Linked DNA regions of Homo sapiens: region 2 is linked to region 1. The links come from fine-mapping of genetic effects on gene expression. Tissue or cell type: esophagus muscle. Region 1 holds a variant in brackets; the other region holds the start of a gene. All regions are shown on one strand. Distances are from middle to middle.

Evidence for each region. PIP is the estimated chance that this variant, and not a neighbour inherited with it, causes the effect.
Region 2: it holds the start of HOMER1, and the variant in region 1 is fine-mapped to the expression of HOMER1 in esophagus muscle (GTEx, PIP 0.95).

The regions. Positions count from the first base shown.
Region 1 is chr5:79,087,451-79,092,599 of GRCh38, reverse strand. BHMT2 (betaine--homocysteine S-methyltransferase 2) reads right to left here. Exons shown (of 8, transcript NM_017614.5): 8 at 2,531-4,107. The coding sequence ends at 4,026. Among named protein-coding and RNA genes, the nearest start is that of BHMT2, 20 kb to the right of the region's middle. The variant C/G (reference allele first, on the strand shown) is at 2,738.
Region 2 is chr5:79,511,123-79,516,271 of GRCh38, reverse strand. HOMER1 (homer scaffold protein 1) reads left to right here and starts at 2,138. Exons shown (of 9, transcript NM_004272.5): 1 at 2,138-3,502. The coding sequence starts at 3,498. RefSeq lists enhancers at 1,416-1,605, 1,314-1,861 and a silencer at 1,856-2,565.

The DNA.
Region 1 (5,149 bases):
AACTATCCCTTAGCTTATCAAATGTATGCAAATATGTGTGGCAGGATATTAGTACTCAGATTGTGTTATTCTGTTCCCCCCACCCTTTTTTCCCAGCACTGGAAAGATATAAGGCAAATATTTCCCCACCTCTAATAAGGATGCCATTGAGAAAAGAGGACTTCACTTTCCTATTGCTTTTGGAGTGATGTCCTATTATAATAACATATGAAGAAAAGAAAGTTTTTCTGAAAACCTTACATAGTTGTGGGGATTGAGGGAGGTGGGGAGGAGGCAGTACAAAGTGCACGTGGGGGCGCACAGGAGCTGACCATCAATCCCCAGAAGTTGCCCAACAAGGGAGAGGACCTGCTTCTTGGGAAGGAAAGAGTCAAGTGGGGCTGGCAGGTACCATGTTACGGGATAACATATGAATGCTCAGAAACTGTCCGAGCTCTGTGTCAGTGCCTGTAGATCCAACGACCTGGCCCTCACATCATCTCCACGAGGTGCACTGTGCTTCCTGGGGCACCTGATCCACAACCTCATATCCTACACCTGAAACAGTGACCATCAACATGGCTGATGGTGTTGATGCTAGTGCTGACCCCAAGGCTTTGCTTGGTCCCAGCTGGGTACACTGTCCTCTCATAATACCTGTAAGCCCAAGAAAATGGAGTGGAGTGGGGTTCTGAATGCCAATCACATAGGCGAGCCCCCCTCACAACATCTGTTTGGGTTCGGGGAGGTTTGAACAAAAGCAGCTCAAGACCCCTTTACTGGAAGAGTGGTTTCTGACCTCTGTTACACAGTTTTCCTATTTGCCTTTGCCTTTGTTTAGAGTATTTTTGTGTGAGTGTTCATACATTTAAAGTTTTTATATGGTAAAATTTATCTTTTTTTCTTTCTTAATTTTTATTTTTATTTTATTTTATTTTATTATTTTTTTTTGAGACAAGGTCTTGCTCTGTCACCCGGGCTGGAGTGCAGTGGTGTGATCACAGCTCACTGCAGCTTCGACCTCCCGGGCTCAAGCTTCAGCCTCTTGACTAGCTGAGACTATAGGCATGCACCACCATGCCCAGCTAATTTTTGTATTTTTTTGTAGAGACAGAGTTTTGCCATGTTACCCAGGCTGGTCTCAAACTCCTATACAGTTTAGCACACCTAAACTGTACAGTAACTAGATAAAAGCCTTTGTTTGTGCTGGTGCAGACCCAAGGAAGGGATTCGGTGTGGAGACATCTCTCCCTCCTAATGTACCTTCTTCACTCTTGCTATTCTCATGATGTCCTGCACTGCCCTCTCCACAAAATCTATGAAGCAAGCAGGAGATATTGTGTAAACGGTCCTCCCCTGGAATGTGGTGTTCAGGACTACATACTAAAAATAAGCAGAGGCTTTGGTACCAGAGTGTTCCCAGAAGACAGTCACCATGAGGATGAGGGGATTGGAAACCAAGTCAACATAATTATATTATACTATATAATGTGCAATGAATGCCTGTTATACGACATGCACTGTTTCTAAGAAACTTATCTCATTTAATCCTCATAGCACCCTAATAAGGATGGTTCTATTTTACCCTCATTTTACAGATGAGGAAATTAAGGCATAAAGCTTAAGTAACTGTACAGTGTCACACAGGTAGATTTGACAAAGCACATCTTAGCCTATGCCTTTTAGTTGAAGGAAATGAGGACAAGTAAGTATAGGAAAGCCATACAGCTATCTTTAAATTTCAAAGAGTTATATGGAAGAAATTATAAATTTGCACTTTAGGTGCTCCAAGTCTGCAGGTGAGGGTCATTAATAAATAGATTTCTAGTTAATACATGGAATAACTTTCCAGAGAATGAAGTGTTTCTTAAAAAGGAGTAAGTGATCTCGAGAGGTAGTGAGTTACTATTTAAGGGATTCAAACAGGGACTGGATGGTCCTGATGAAGATGCTGGCGAGGATATTCAGGTATTTAATTGGTGGTTTGGATTAGTCACCCTTAAGGACCCCAAAGGCCTTGAGATAATAGTAAATGATTCACTTTCTAATTTCCAGCAGGGTGGGGTTGTGTATTATGGGTAAAGTGGCTATATCAAATAAATTCCAGGTTGTCAACATTACAGAAACAGTCATGGCAGGTTTGAAGAGTTAATTCATAATAAGGAAAGTTGATAAAAAATACTTTGAATCCAGCGACAGAAAAATTTGGATAGATTTTTGACAAAAAGCAGCAGCTGTGTGCATGACAGATGCCGTGTAGTGCAGTAGCTAAGGGCATGGATTCTAGAGCCAGCCCCATGGGTTCAAATCCAAATTTACTAATTTCACATTTACTAGTTGTGTGACCTCAGGCAAGTTACCTAGCCTCCTTAAACTTCAGTTTCCTTACCTGTAAACTACTGTGTTAAACACTATCTAATTTTGAATCCCTGTTGGGGGGTATATGTAGATGAGATCATCTTTAGAACAAAGACTGCGACATAGTGAGTAATAAATATTTGCTAGTATTATTCCAAAGAATGTTCATGACATTTTCGACATTCAAACACTATAAAAGGTAAATCATTTTTATTGCCACAAATTGATAAATTGTTGTGAAAAAAAGAGAAACTGGCACACATGAAATAACACAAACATAAGAAGATATAAGACCAAAATAGATTTGAATTATGTCTCCCAGGCTGGATTGCAGTGGGGCGATCTCAGCTCACTGCAACCTCTGCCTCCCAGGTTCAAGCAATTCTCATGCCTCAGCCTC[C/G]AAGTAGCTGGGATTACAGGCATGCACCACCATGCCTGGATAATTTTTGTATTTTATTTAGTAGAGATGGGGTTTTGCCATGTTGGCCAGGCTGGCCTTGAACTCTTGACCCAAGTGATCTGCCCGCCCTGGCCTCCCAAAGTGCTGGGATTATAGGTGTCAGCCTGTGCCCCTGGCCTAAACTCTGACTTTTGAAAAGGTTTTCTAAAACTTTATTTTTAAACAATCAACAATAAGTATTTCACTGTGCACCTATTAGTATGTCTAACACAATGCTAAGTAAGGGGAATTATGAGAAGATTATAAGCTTATCACGTGATCTTGTCTTTAAATAGTTTATAACCTAGCTACCTATGATTATGAAGACACATTTTAAAAATTCTAGGACCTAATATCTTTTTTTTTTTTTTTTGAGATGGAGTCTCACTCTGTCACCCAGGCTGAAGTGCAATGGCCTGATCTCGGCTCACTGCAAGCTCCGCCTCCTGGGTTCAAGCGATTCTCCTGCCTCAGCCTCCCGAGTAGCTGGGATTACAGGCACCCGCCATCATGCCCGGCTAATTTTTGTATTTTGGTAGAGACAGGGTTTCACCATGTTGGTCAGGCTGGTCTTGAACTGCTGACCTCAGGTGATCCGCCCGCCTCGGCCTCCCAAAGTGCTGGGATTGCAGGTGTGAGTCACTTCGCCTGGCCAGACCTAATATCTTTAAGTAAAAATCATCTTTGAAAGTAATCACTTTGGATAGTTAAACATTTATTTCAATAATGCTACCATTGCTCAAAACATTCTTTACATCTTTTCTTTGGGATTGCCTTTGGAGTCATTGTATAAATCATTAAAAAAAGCAGACTCATTGCTTTAGTTTAGTGTTGCTCTATCATCCTCAAGTATCTAGCTTAGTCACTTGAATTATTCACTAGCTTTGGGTCTCAGTGACTTCTGATTATTTTAAAGTGTCAAATTCACCCTCAAAGACAAGTTTGGCTATTCTTCATGATCTTCAAAGGAATGCACCACAGCATGATTGGACAGTAAGTTCTTGGAGAACAAGGTGCCTCTCTCGCTTCTCTTTGCATCTCTGGTAGAGTCTGTTGCAGTGCTTAACCACAGCAGGAGCTCAATATGCACACACTTGTGGGCTGGAAGGGAAGGGGCTGCAGCACCTCAGCTGCTCAGCAGCTGGAGATAGCAGGGCATGGTGAGGATGAAGGTGAGGAACGGTTCCAGGTCAGGCTTGAGGGCAACTTTTTCCTGTTCGATTATTTCAGGGTTTTCTTTCACTACTCCTTAGAAGTCTGGCTTTGACAGCGAAGGACAGAAAGGTCTGCCTGAAGCTGGCAGCAGATTCTCCCAATACTCCCTTCGAGCCCTGTGTTTCAATATATACATAATTAATTAATTAAAAGTCTTACCTATAAGTCCAATATGTCATATATGTATATATGTATGTATATGTATATAACCACACACACACACACACACACACACACACACACACACACAGTCAAAACTTGGTGGATAATCAGGCTAAAGCAGAACTTTTGTTTTAACATACAGACGGAAAACTGTGTCCATATCCATTAATGCCAGGGGCCTTTCTTACATTTCAATAACAATCATTAGGTTTCATACCACCTTTCAGAAAAAGACAACGTATTTCAATTTCATATACTTTTTATTTTGAGACAGGGTCTTGCTCTGTTGCCCAGGCTGGAGTGCAGTGGCACAATCTTGGCTCACTGCAGCCTAGACCTCCTGGATTCAAGCAATCCTCCTGCCTCAGCCCCCCAGGTAGCTGGGACTACTGGCGTGCACCACCACACCAGGCTAATTTTTGTATTTTTAGTAGAGACAGGGTCTCCCCATGTTGCCCAGGCTAGTCTCAAACTCCTGAGCTCCAGTGATCCGTCTGCCTTGGCCTCCCAAAGTACTGGGATTACAGGTGTAAGCCACCATGCCCAGCCTTACATTTCACATACTTTTATGAATTATATTTATTCTGAAATTTCTAACAGAGTCCTTCTAACTCTATCAATATTTTAATGTAATGAGAAGAATACGAGAACAGTTTTTAATGTAATGAGTCAAAGTATAATTCTCCAAAAAGTAACTAAGAAAATAATACAAATTACTTTACCAATATTTGTTTCTTGTTGTTAGACAAAGGAAGAAGAGTACAAAGGTCCCTGGTCGTAGCCCTTTCTGATGAATATATTTTTATTGTTTTTTCCACTTTACTTACAAAACAATGAATAAATCAATATTTTTGGATGATGAGATGTCAGAAATCTAGTGTTTATTGTGTAATCATAAATTTCTGTGAATATCAGTAGGTTTGGGAGTCAGGGTAAAAAGGGTGTCTTCTTGCTTTGGTCTACAGAATAATGTTTTAATTCTAATAGCTAATGAAT
Region 2 (5,149 bases), 420 kb before region 1:
GGCGGCGCGCGCCTACAATCCCAACTACTTAGGAGGCCGAGGCACGTGAATTGCTTGAACCTGGGAGGCAGAGGTTGCAGTGAGCCGAGATCGCGCCACTGCACTCCAGCCTGGGCAACAGAGCGAGACTCAGTCTCAAAAAAAAGACTTAATATTTCAAACTTCAAGCAAGATCATAATTTTATAATGTGAAGATGACCAGAGTGTTTGAATCAGTTACAAATGGGTCTTTTTTGTTGTTGGTGGTGTTCTTTAATCTTGGACTCCTAACTTGAGCAAGAAAATGTAAATACAGAAAGCTGCAAAACCAATGTTCCTTAATTAGGAACCATGTGAGTAGTTTAACATTACAAACAGTTTCTAAAAGTCACACGTGGTATACATTCTAACGAGTTTTAGCTTCTTTTATTTAAACTGCGTTGATATTGATCTATAACTTTCCTAATAATCACTTCATAGGTTGGTAATCCTATGTTTTGGATTTTCCAGGTCACTTCAGATTCAAATATTTTTTCCTAACGTCAAATGGTGTGTCTAGATTTTGGTCTGGAAAACAGGGTCACTAAATTTGTAGACTAACTTGAAACAGTATTGGCCTTTGGCAATACGCAGCAATTCTATTTCTTGGCCATGCTTATCAAGTTAAGTAAAATAAAATCAAAGTTCACTATATGATTTACCTAATTAAAAAATTGTTTTAACCTAATTACTTTAAAATAATTTAAAAACTCTGTAGTAATTTACAATGTAAAAAGCACTCATAATATGGTGTTTATAGACACACATAGCTAGTAAACCTATAGACAGCTACTCACCCTTGCCATACAGAAAATGCAAAACACACTTAAGAGATATTGTAATTACATATTATGTGGTCAAAACTAAAGAAGACGAAAATATGCTTGTGTTAATGAAAAAGGATTTGGTGCTCTTTCTTATTTTTAATTTTTAAATTTTAATTTAAATTCCACAGACTGAAACCCATATACTTTTTCTCTTTCTTGTTTTACTGGCTGGAGCCAAGTGTCATGGAACTCATATTCTTGATGAAGAGAAACTGAGAGGACACACTGGCATTTGCTATACGTGAACTAAGATTGACTCATTTTCCTATGTCAAAACTGCTATTTTGCAAATAAAATTACTATCCTTTATAACATTATTTCGTTTGCTTATTGCTCTGCTCTTTATTCTTTCGTGTTTCAGGTAACCACTAACAAAAAGTTTAAAAGTCGACTATGTCCAGAATGGCACTCTATAATTGAAAATTTAGGTGATTTTTCCGAAGTCCTGTTGGAAGCACATCTACCAGCAGTGTGATCAGGCTCTCCCTCCCACATTTCCCTGCTAGTCAGGACAAGAGAAGCCCGGGGGTGCTGCTGCAATAGCGGTGGGAGTGGGAGATAGGCTATTACCCGCTTGACACTGCACTTTTGCTACGAATGATTCACTCAGGTTTGGCACATTTGTTGCAAGGAAATCTCCTCCTCCCGCCGCTTCCTTGTTCGAGCTCCTCTCGGGCTGTCTCCTGTGCTTTGGCCTTTAAGGAGAAGTGAGAGCAGGTGGGCACACAGGAGCTCGCCGAGTCCTCCTCCCCCTGCTCCTTCCCTAATTTAGCAGTACTTCCGGCCGCGTGACATCATCCCCCGCACCTCGGTGACGTGAGCTGCGGGTGACGTGTGTGCGGAGAGAAGCGCGCTGACGTTGCTATTTAAAGGTCCTCCTGCGGGGAGGATGGAGACACAGCGCGAGCACCTGGTGTGGGGCGCGGAGGAGGCTGTGGCGGTCGGGAGCGGGGCCAAGAGCCAGAGGAGGAGCAGAGCGCACGGCCAGCCAGCCGCCAGCCTCTAGGGGAGGGGGGAAAAGAAGGACGAACGGACTGAGGGCCTGCCGCCGGCCCAGCTCCCCACGAGGGCCGCTCGGCCCCCCACCATCAGCCTCTCCGCCGCCTTGCGGCTGCTGCTTTCTCCCGCGGCCCGCTGCTCGCAAGGCCCGTCGGGCTCCCGGGACCAGTCCGCGCCCCAGCCCCCGGCCGCGGCTCCGCGGCGGCCACCGCCTCCCGTCCCTTCCCGCGAGCAGAGGGAGGGACCGCCCTCGCTCCCCGTTCTCTCCGCCCCCTTCCCGCCCCCCGCAGCCCACTCTGCCGCCGCGCTAGCTTCACGCCGGCGGCGCTGACCGGGAAAGCAGCACCCTCTTCTCTGCCAGCCGGCCGGCCGGCGGAGGCGGAGGCAGCGGCAGGCTTCAGGCCGCCGGGGCTGGCGCTGCTCTGCCCGGCGGTAGCCGGAGGCGGGCGCTGATGGAAGTGTGAAGAGGCGGCGGCGGGGCCCGGGGAATGTGAGGCGGCGCGTGGCGGCGGCGCGGAGCGTGAGAGACGAGGAGTAGGGGTGGGGGCGCTGGAGCGGCGGCTGCGCTTCGGCTTCGAGCCCAGCTCTCCTGGCCCCAACGCGGGCTTAGCCTCCCGCCTTGGCTCGGGCAGGCGCCCGTCGACCCTTCGGCCCCTTTCGCCCGCCCTGGAGCTGGGGGCAGGGTGCCAGTGGAAGCGTGGGGCTTGGCTCTGTGATTCATTCATTCTCCGCCGACGGGAGCCTCAGACCCGCTGTGCTCTGAAGAGAGGAGGGAAGAGGGGGCAGCCGCGAATGAAGGGCCGGGCACCAGCCGGGCTCCATTGTGCTCGGCGGCGGGGGGCGGGAAGGGGCTGAGGGAGGTGGGATCGGGTCCCCTCCTCCAGCTCTCCGGCGTGCGCTGCGCCCCCAGCCTGCTGCCAGCCTGGAAATGGCTCCGTTTATTCTCTTCGGGAGAATGAATCGATCCTGCCTAGCCTTCTCTTCGTCCTCCCCACCTCTTCTCTGCTCCGAGTCTTAGGAGGAGAAACATTTAAAAAGACAGATTCCAATGTGGAGTGCCGTGCAGGTTGCGAGCTGCCGGGTTTGCACTTCGAGGAGATTTTCCTGTGTAGTTTTTTTCCTAATGTGAGCGCAGGGAAGCCGTGGCATTACTGCTTTTGGGATTTTTATTCACGTGCACGTCGCGTTTGGTTGCTCGCTCCACCCCCGGAGACCTGGTGTGGTGGAGAAATTTGAACCCGCAGCCTTAGCTCCGAAAAGGCCGAGTTACCTGGCTCTCCCTGAGTGTCGAGGAGGACATGAGTGAAATGACCAGCGAACTCATTTTTTATAGGACTCGGTGAAGCCGGATTCTGCATTTCCCTACTTGTAGACTCATTTTGTGGAATAGAGTTGATCGCTGTCTCCTCCGCAAAGCATTTTAACTCGAATAAGCAAATGCCGCCTCTGTTTGAACGTTTTGGTATTTACAAGAGAGAAATCATTTTACCTAAGAGAACTAATTGAATTGGCAGCATCCTTGAAATACCTCCGGACAAGGATCTGGGGGTGGGGGTGGAAAAGCAACTGCGAAATAGCAGACGGAGAAATTCCTTTGGAAGTTATTCCGTAGCATAAGAGCTGAAACTTCAGAGCAAGTTTTCATTGGGCAAAATGGGGTAAGGATTTTTGTGCTTAACACAGCTTCGAATCTGTTTATGTATGTGTATTATTGAGCGGTGGTGGTGATTGTGTTTTGTGTTTTCAAACAAACTTGCCACCTTGCTAAGCTGGTCATACTTTAAAGAAATAGGCATGCTAACCTTTTAGGTTATTTTTGCATTTTTGTAGAGCGGTACCAGAGGTCATAATTTAAAAACACATATATCGTTTGTAACTTGAATATGGATTTGTGAGTAATGTTTACAAAGACAACGCATTCTACACTTTACTGGTCAGACTGCTGCATCAGTTTGTAATCAAAATCACATTATTTTAGCTTTTGCTGACGGTTATCTTTCAAAGAGAAGTACTGCATTCTCTCAGTACTTTTAGATAATCAGTTGCACAAAGGAACGATTTTAATGAGTGGTTAGACAACAGTCCTTGAAAGTGATCCAGAGTAAATTGTTGCCCTCACCGTGCCCTCTGTCTTGTCCTTGAATATTCAAAGCTAAAATGTATAGAATTGATTTACTGGGGCGTTAAAACGAAAATCTGAAATTCAGTCTTACTGATGCGGTCACCACGGTACGGGTGCATTTCGTAGGAAAAAGCTTTTTGTTTAAGGAACTTGTTCACTCCTTTTGTTTTTCGCTTTTAAGCTCAGCCCTTCAGTTTGAGTTAACAGTATCAGATCTACACCTTCCTTCGGACCCAGAGCCAACTGAGAGTGCATTTTCCAGTCTTTTATTAACTCTTCACACTGTGGGTTGATGAAATGCTAGTGACACTTCCTAATTTAAGCTGGAAACCCATAATATATTAATGGAGCAATCTGATTTCATTGACAGGTTGTCACTGCTTTTTGGCAGAAGAACTTCCAGAATTTTCTCTTTTTGTGTGTGTGTGGTTGAACAAACACATCTGAAGTGTAGTTGAGGGGCATGTTTTAAAGAATGGACTCTGCAATTCATCGTGATGGTTTAGGTGTGTACACACGCTTGAAACTTTCTGAGGAAAGTTCTTGAATAGTACCTTCCTTTTGGAGTTAGAATTTGAAGTTTAACATGCATAACTTTGAAAATTTAGAGCATGTTGTAGGAGACGTTCCTCAGAAATTAATGACAAAGTTATAATGGTTTTAAAAACTTGAATGACAAGTGATGAGAATATATATAACTTGCATGATTTGGGGGTACCGCTAAGAGTAATTAAAATACCTCATTCTATTTCTAGCGCTGCTATTAGTAGCTTAGTGATCTGAGGCAAATTACTTGACCTCTGTGGACTCTATTTCTTACCTGTAAAATGAACGATTTAGAGATGACTTAAAGATTTCTCCAAACTGTAAAAAACGAATTGCTTTCTTTTTATTCTCCTCCTCATTTTAATGATCACTAGTTGGTTTCTGCAAGTCGATCTTTCTGATGGAGACCTTTTTCACTCTAAGCAGTTTAAGCGCTTAACGCTGAAAAATAATGGCATTTGAAAAATGTTTTGGATGAATTGCACCAATTTTAAATGAGAAAAATACTGAAAAATACTACTGTTCAAAACCTTAGAAATATGGCTTCCCTTGAGCATCTGCAGCTCTGTTTAAAACATGTTGGAGGAAAAAAAATCAAGCAGCAGTTTTTCATGTTGATGGCTGCATTTTGTCTAGA